Regions from separate parts of the Homo sapiens genome. Here region 2 is linked to region 1. Evidence: fine-mapped expression QTL. Tissue or cell type: B cells. Region 1 holds a variant in brackets; the other region holds the start of a gene. All regions are shown on one strand. Distances are from middle to middle.

Region 1 (4,403 bases):
AGTGTCTGCAGCCTGTACTGAGTCAGAGTATCTGAGAGAGGTAAGGAGACTCTAGCCCAGTGTTGAAAGGGGGAACAAAGGGCCTTCTCTCCTCTTCAAATGCCCCCAAAGGGCTTCAGAGCAGGTTAGCTGGGATGATTGCCTTGAAGCAGGTTGAAGAAACATTTTTATTGAGGATAATTAAGCAGAGATAACTACTGTCCACCCCCTGTTCTCTCTCTCTCTCTCTCTCTCTCTCTCTCTCTCTCTCACACACACACACACACACACACACACACACACACACACAGAGTACATGATAGTCATATATGTTTGAATGTTCATATTTCAGCATTAATAAATTGATACTTGCTAGCATTGTGGTTGCATGGAGCAAATGAAAATTATTACAGCTTGATATGGTTTGGATCTGTGTCCCCACCCTAATCTCATGTCGAATGGTAACCCCCCAGTGTTGGAGGTGGGGCCTGGTGGGAGGTGATTGGATCATGGGGGTGGATTTCACCTTTGGTGATAGTGAGTAAGTTCTCGTGAGATCTAGTCATTTAAAAGTGTGTGGCACCTCTCTGCCTCTCTCTCTCGGTCCTGCTTCTGCCATGTAAGATGCCTACTCCCACTTTGCCTTCTGCCATGAGTAAAAAAGCTCCCTGAGGATTTCCAGAAGCAGAAGCTGCTATGTTTCCTGGAGCGAACCTGAACTTCCCCAGAAGCAGAAGCCCTAAGCTTCCTGTAGTGAAGTCTGTGAAACTATGAGCCAATTAAACCTCTTTTCTTTATAAATTACCCAGTCTCAGGCATTTCTTTATAGCAGTGCAAGAACAGACTAATACACAGCTTGAATATTTCTGCCCTCTTTGCTCAAGAAATAAGAGAAGTAATAGTCTAGGACATGTAGCAGGACTTCTTTCACCTTTGGTGTCAAACCACCCTATAAGAAATGTTTAGAAATACACCTGTGGAAACATAAGTTATATGTTGTAGATTATTCAAGTCAAAAAGACTGATGTATAAGAAGTGTGCCAGACGTGTCCATACTGATGAAAGTAGTCTCTTCCTGTAGTAAAGATTGGAAGGCTTTTTCCAATCTTTTTGCTTTTTCCAATGTTCATGTGCTTTTTCCAATGTTCTTGCCCATAGTTAATCAAATTTTCTTTGAAATACGAGAAAAAATGATAAATGTTTGAGCTGATGGATATCTTTACCCTAATTTGATCATTACACATTGTATGCACATATCAAAACATCACACGTACTCCATAAATATGTACAATTACTGTGTATCAATTTTAAAAATCTAAAAAAAAACTTATTTATTTTCTTCTTCTTCTTTTTTTTGAGACTCTCATTAGGTCACCAGGCTGGAGTGCAGTGGTGCGATCTCGGCTCACTGCAACCTCCGCCTCCCGGGTTCAAGCAATTCTCCTGCCTCAGCCTCCCAAGTAGCTGAGACTACAGGTGTGCACCAGCACACCCAGCTAAATTTTGTATTTTTAGTAGAGATGAGGTTTCACCATGTTGGCCAGGATGGTCTTGATCTCTTGATCTTGTGATCTGCCCGCCTCGGCCTCCCAAAGTGCTGGGATTACAGGTGCACCTGGCCTTTTTTGAAATATTTTATAGAGCCTGATTAATATTATTTCCAAGTGATCTTCATTGGTGACAGATCATTGCCCTTTTAAGATACATTTTATTTCTTTAATAGGAAGAAATAATCAGGAGTTGAGATTAAACAAAAATATGGGTGACAAAAGTGATAAGGCTTTTGGTGAAACACAGGGTGTGGCTATAATTAAATCAAATTTAATTGTGTAAACTCATTGCTCAAAAGGCAGTTTCCAAAAAGTGAATAATACATGAACAACAAACATTGTGTGGAACTGTGGCAGCACTGAGTCTGTGGCCCCTTGAGGTGTCACTTGACCAAAAAGCAATTTTTTGTGTGTCTGAATTATTTCAAGGGTGTTTATAAGACTCAGTTTTGTGTGTGTATCATATACACATAAGCAATAGTTCCAGCATAATGCAGATTTTGTAATAGGAAAATGAATGTATTAAAATTGATAAAAGAAAAGTCAAACGAAGTCAGCAACTCTGGTTTAGAGAAAAACTTTTACTATAAAGTTCTGTCTTTCTATTTTGTACCTCATGTACAATCCTTTGGCTTTAAGGATATTTCAAATGAGTGAGAGTAATACAAGTTTACTCTGAGTAGAAAATAAACTATGGAGTTCTCTTAACATTAAGCTTACTACATGAGTAGCAAGTCTTTTTTCCCCATAGCACGGGAGGAAGAAGAGCCTACTTGAGGCATTTCTAGTAGGATTTCACTTTTTAAATTGCTACTAGATTGGAAACTTCAAAGGTTTATTCTATAGTTTTGAATCCTAATTGAAAGGTTGACATTTTATGCTTGTTACTCCTGTG[T/C]TTGGTTTTGGAAAATGGTGTTTATTTTCCAAGTGACATGGCAGAAAGGAAAGCTCTGGACTAGGAACCAATAGATGAGGGCAAAGTCCTTTCTATATGTTTGTTATTGCTAGATTTGTGATGTTGAACAAGTTCCTCTGTCTATCTGGTCCTCAGTGTTCATATCATTAAAATGAAAGTAATGAACTACAAGATGTCTAAAATTCCACTTAGTTCTAACCTTCAGTGACTTGGTCATCTAAAGTTACAAATTGGGTATTTGAGGTTTTTAATAGCACAGATATCCTAAGACATTGACATCTGGCTTTCAAGAAAAGAGCCAGCTCCATAATTCCATTATTTTCCCATTAATGTTTAAGCTGGGAGAGAGAATGACTTAGCCAAGCACTCACACAATCATTATTCTTATGATGAAGCAACTTAACAACCAGCTTGTGTGTTTCCTGGTTGACATACACAGGAAAATTATCATCATTACATGTTTAGTGTATTGCTTAATTGATGAACTGTAGTATTTATGGAGTGGTACATTTTGCAATACTCCCTTTTTTGATGATTTTAAACTACAGAGCCATTATGGAAAGTCAGCTCTCTCCTGCGTGTACACATAATTTACTTTGAATTTCTGTGAAGATCAACCTAATTATAAACATTTTATACTGGACTAGAGCAATTCAGAACAAAGAGTCGTTCATTATATTCATGGTCATGACATTGTTAACTGTTTATATTTTTTGTTAGATTTCAAAAATATTGCATATAAAATCCTTTTAGCAATCCCTAAGTTCCTAACTCCTCACCCAGGGCTCTTTTACTATATTACAAAGCTACAAAATAAAGTAAAATAGTTGCTGAGAGTAACTCAATACAACTCTTCAGATTACCAGAAAACCTTTGCAAATTCAGACATCATGGTACATAAATCTAACTGCTCCTACTTCTGGTTTAAATGTGTTTCAGGGACTGATCATTGATATTTCTGCATTGTGTATCAATACTCAGCTTCCCAAAGGTAACTTTAGTGATTAAATAGTAAAGCTAGCTTTGCATATACACTTTTCATTGAATATTTTAGACTGAGCACATATAGGAGGATAGCAATATTGCCTGAAAATATGGAGTAATCCTTGGTAATGTGCACCACAATTCAAATTCAAGAATATTGGGGCAGGAGGGGGCATTTAACTGGGATTCACCTTGGAATAGAAAGCTCATAGCAAAAAGGCTCTTTAGTAAGATAATTCATACCTTTAAACTGCAAATTGTATGTGAAGGTGGAATTTATGGTCCTAGCAAGCATCAAGGAAAGCTTATGAAACTGAACTGCAGTTGTTCATGGCCAGCTAACCCTGCGGGAAATGGAAATGCACTTTGGTATTCTTAAAACTAAGTGTCAAAGCCCCTCAAATTTCAACTGGCTTTCAAAGAATTTTTAAAGCTTTAGAGGTTTTCAGTTAAGCACGTTCTTTTACTATTGTAGAGGTATGGAATGAACTCCTAGAAACATGTGTATGTTTAATTTATATTTTGCTTTGAAAATGTAAAAATATATTTATAAATATACATAAAAGGATATATTTATTTATTATACCCATATCTATCATCCTTGCATCTTCCAAAATGGCCTAGAGTATATTTTGGGTAAGGATAAGGAAAAAAGACAAAAAAAGGAAATGAAACAAGAATGGAGAAGGTAGACTGGAGGAGGAAGGAATGTTATGCATTCAACTTTATATGCTTAGCAAAAAGTTTGTATAAACTATTTTTGTCTTTAATAAGTTTCTTTTATGTTTCTCTATGAGACGTTACTATTAAAAATGATATGATGATGAGCTCTGACTATTCTCATTTCAGTACAAATCACCAGATAAAGATCTTTTTTTCCATTTATTTTTTCCTTCCCAGGAAAAGAAATCCCCTTTTAGTTGGCGGGAATCTATTGTTAGTTTTCCTTCTCTAAAATAGAGCCCTCTTGGCAC
Region 2 (4,403 bases), 48 kb after region 1:
CTTCTCAGTTTATCTTCCATTCTCAAGTTCCTAATCTGAAAAAAATGCACCTAGTTTCTATCTTGCATACTTGTGAGTCTCGGCGATATCATCCATATATGCACACAGTTCTCAGTGCAGGAGATGCCCTCAGCAAATGGCAACTAGCCATTCCTCTATTTGAAAGACAGTCAGACACAATGGCCTGGGGTGCTTGCCTTGTGGATGTTCTGCAGTTTCTAAGCAATTCTGCTGCAGAAGCACTACTGGGGGACACCCCCTCTTCAGGTGAAACTGCGATGTAATGAATGCCTTTTAATAATTCGGTCATCAATTTCCCTTGAGTTGGTCCCACATTGAACCTGTCATAGGCTCGCATCCGTTAATCTTAAGAAATACGGTTTGTTGCATTTTAGAGATCATGGAAATGATCATTTCAAAGTAGTTTTCCTCCTGTTTCATCTGGGATTTATAAAGAACTTCAGCCATTCCTAAATATGAGACAAAAAGGTCTGACAGCAAGTGACTTTAGAGAGATATCTGGCTCAGAAAAGACTACCAAAGTCCAGGAGATGGTTGGAAAGATGGGCCCATATGAGAATTCTGTGTTTATTTTCTCCCTAGGTGAATGTCTTTGCTGATAATGTTTCCAGGCACCACTGGGCAGTGAGTCATTTTTGGCCCTACCCACTTCACTTAAGAGATACGAACTGAATTTAAAACCCAGATATCTGAGGAAGGCCATCTCATGCTCCTTCAGGGCACCCACAGCCCCAGCAGCAACAAAAGGTGGTGATAATGGAGGGAAGTAGAGAGGGAGACCCAGGAAATCACATGCATTAACTAGAGTTTTCATGAACAGAGTTGAAAAAAGAAGACATTTCAAATTTTAAATTCTTCTCCCAACTCCTATACCTGGCTCTTTAATGTTATAAAAATCAGAGGATTCCACTAGGGGGGATAAATGTTTTGAAGAAGTAATCCATTGATCACTTCCTCTCACTCGACATGTTTAACTAGATGGAATCAATACTTCTTAGCCTAGCAATGGGTTTGTAAAAAAAAAAAAAAAAACGGTAACACAATTGGATGTTGTAAGGCAACTTAGGATAAAAGGATCCTGTAGACAAATTCCTCCTTATCCCTTACCCCACCTGTGAGCACCTTTGATTAAAAGTCAGATCTGTATGGATATATTAAGTCACCAAATTCATGGAGGTTAGGGCACAAATCTTTTTTTTTCATTTTTCAGTGCATTTACTTGTCATCCAACACCTGCCCTAATGACACACACAGAAACAAAGAATCTTGAGTTTTAAACTGAGCACAAGAAATTGAAAATATAACTATGTAAAACATCAAAAGTCCCACCCACTTTTTAAAAGAACTTGCTTAATTCAAGCATATTTAAGAAATAGTGCCCCTGTCTAACACATTTCTATTACATTAGCACAGTGCCTACTTGCAGGTTTTATTTCTTGCAGTTCAATGAGTACAGTATTTCAACTGGAGAACTCGAAACAGACACAAAGGCTTTTTTTTTTTTTTTTTTTAGTTAACCCTTCAGAGAAAACATGCAGGGACAATCACCACTTCTTCATTTTCACTGTCACCTGGATTCACAACCATGCAGCCAAAGACAGTTTCAGATGGGCAGATGGCCCTAGTGGTTAATAGAGATGAGAGAGGGAAAAGAAATAAATGAATGCTCTGTTTTCTGTGTAAGCAAATAAAAAGGCAGAGGAAACAAAAGGAATGAACCAGCCAATGGGGTTGAATCATCGAGTCCCTCTAAACATACCTTGACTTTCCCATGCAGGGATCTACTTCCCCGATAGCCAGTTCAGCGTGGATACTCATGCCGATGAGCCTAAGAATGTTTGCCTGTCAGAGATAAACACTGCATTTCTGCCTGCTGCACACAGAGTTGCTGGAACCTGACAATGCCGTGTGCGAGTAATAAGCCATCATGAAATGGTGAAAGAGTCAGGGCTCTTGAATTACGCTTGCTTTATATGGGTTGAATTGCACATCTAGGGCAATGTTTGGCCAAGTGAACAGGGCATGCAAAGACCTTGCTTCCTCTCTGTGCTGTGGGGAACTGAGACTGTGCCGGGCCTGCAAACGCGGTGAGGAAAAATCCATTTGAATGCTTACTGCTGAATGGTGCTGGGCATTGTCAGCTTTTGTTTACTTCATCTTACATGTGAAGATCGCAGCTGTTCCTTTCAGTAAAAAGAAGTAGGAGAATGTAGCAACCAACCTCACATTTTCCCCTCCTCCAAATGTTTGTGGAGCCCAACAGCTGTCTTTGCAAATCCTGTCACTCAGGATTGGAATGGTTCTACATAATCAAGAATGGAGTGGTGAGGCTGAGATTGTTGGCTGGCTCGAGGTAGCAGGTGGGAATGAACTGTTCTCTTAATGGGCTCACTTGGTCTGTTCCTGCAGGGACTGACTCAAAAAAGAAAAAAGAAAGTTTAAAGGAGGCGATGAAGGAAAGTTGAACACATATGTCTTGTATTTCATACGTATAGATCTGAATGGCTGTGAAGCATGAATTCACTGGTTGTTAGAATTGTAAGGGATTTGAAAGGTCCTATTGTCTAGGAGTTTTCAAATTATTTTTAGCAGCAGAGGTTTTTTTTTTTTTCTTTCCTCAAATGAAGTCTTAGACTAGGGATATTGTGTGATAAATGAAAATACCTACATAGAATAAGCGGAAGCATCAATGGAAAACTGGGCTGGGTATAAGAAAAGCAACTTCAATAACAAATGAGCTCAGTTCTGGTAACAGGGCGGGAGTCATGAGGACTGAGGCAAATTGGATGTGCTTGGAGAGGACGAGTGCTCCTCCTTCTCAGCACAGCCACGCACGGCATAAGGATGTTTTGGTCAAGAAAGACTGCGTGTATGATAGTGGTCCCAGATTATAATACTGTATTTTTATTGTACTTTTTCGATGTTTAGATACAGAAATGCTGACCATCGCAATGCACAGGAATGCCCTAGGATGGCGGCCAAAGCCTTCCGTCTCCCACCCAGCCCATTTTCCTAACAAATGTGCGCATTTAACATTGTTTTTCATCCCCAAGAATGGGGTATCAATAGAATCTACAAGACCAAGACTTAAATGAAATGAATCAACAGTAACACAAACAGTAGCAATTTTCAATTAGAAATTTAAGGAAAGCTTCATAAAATGTTCATAGAATTCTGTCTCAATTCACCTAGCCCATTTCAACTGTAGCGTAGACGTCTGTTGTTAACAGCCTTAACATCTTTTTTGGGCTTTTTGCAAATATGAGTACAATTTACGTCATTTATTCCCACCCAATAGATTAAATGCCAGGAGTCTGGAATACAGAGAAAAAAGAAAAAAAACTATAAAGAGAACAACAACAACTACAAAAATCAGCTAAGTCTGAGCAGTTTCAAGAGACATGCTGATTTTTTAAAAATATGCGGAGACTATCCAGTTATCTCAGATTCCTGGTTCGTTTTCCACTCAAAAGTTAGGTCAGCTAGCATCTGACATAACAGTCCTTGATTATCTCTGGTTTTGAAAAACAGAAGAATACAACAGATTGCTTCTGCTCAGTCAACCAAGTTCTTGTGTTTTAGTTACCCTGACATCAACTTCAGGTGAAGGAAGAATGTTTACATATCAAAGTGGATAACATTTCATGCTGGTGGAAGGCGCTTCTTCCTCTGTTTTTCTGGCCGTGCAGGCTGCAGCCAGAACAAGGCTGGCCTCTGCCTGTTTTAAAGGAATTTGACTTATGGACTGGCTCCAACACAAAAATGCATATTCATCTTCCAGAACAGGTACAAAACATCCCCTGTTATTAATAACCTACAGCACCTCTCTTCTCATTTCATACATACCAGCAGAACTTGACTTTCACTCATATTATAGTTGATTTTTTTAACACAATAAAAAGTGGAGAATGACAGAATTTTACTCGAAGAATCTTTTTTGTATTTAGTTTTTTTTTTCATTTAGTGGTTATGAAAAGCAGAATTATGTCTTACTTATTGAAATCTTTTGAAATGCTTTTAGACTTTCCTCAAATCTTTTAAATCACAATAAAGGGAATCGATAGCCATCTTTCCAGGTGAAAGGAGTTGAACCAGCTAATGCATCACTCATTCTGATTAACCAATTCAAAGGCAGGCAGGCAGTTAAATATTTGCTGTAATTCATTCTTGAGTGGTTATATATGCTTCAGTGGCAGATTTGATTTAATAAATATCAATAACCATGGCAATGCTCAAGGAGGAAAAACAAAAGCAAACTATGAAATAATTTAGGTGTCTCTTTTATTAAAAGTACAGTGGAAAATTATCTCAAGATAACCATGGCACATGAATTAGACATGTCTCAGGAATATGTTTGTTTGTTCTCTCTGTGCCTTGGGATG

The links. PIP is the estimated chance that this variant, and not a neighbour inherited with it, causes the effect.
Region 2: LINC02397 starts here. The variant in region 1 is the best candidate, but not a certain one, in a credible set for the expression of LINC02397 in B cells (Schmiedel 2018, PIP 0.71).

The regions. Positions count from the first base shown.
Region 1 is chr12:92,512,024-92,516,426 of GRCh38, reverse strand. LOC105369904 (a long non-coding RNA gene) reads right to left here. Exons shown (of 4, transcript XR_945210.3): 4 at 4,299-4,403. Among named protein-coding and RNA genes, the nearest start is that of LINC02397, 48 kb to the right of the region's middle. RefSeq lists a silencer at 1-87. The variant T/C (reference allele first, on the strand shown) is at 2,425.
Region 2 is chr12:92,464,380-92,468,782 of GRCh38, reverse strand. LINC02397 (long intergenic non-protein coding RNA 2397) reads right to left here and starts at 2,104. Exons shown (of 2, transcript NR_144532.1): 1 at 1,781-2,104. RefSeq lists enhancers at 920-979, 1,760-1,849, 2,050-2,199, 1,956-2,463 and a silencer at 2,176-2,470.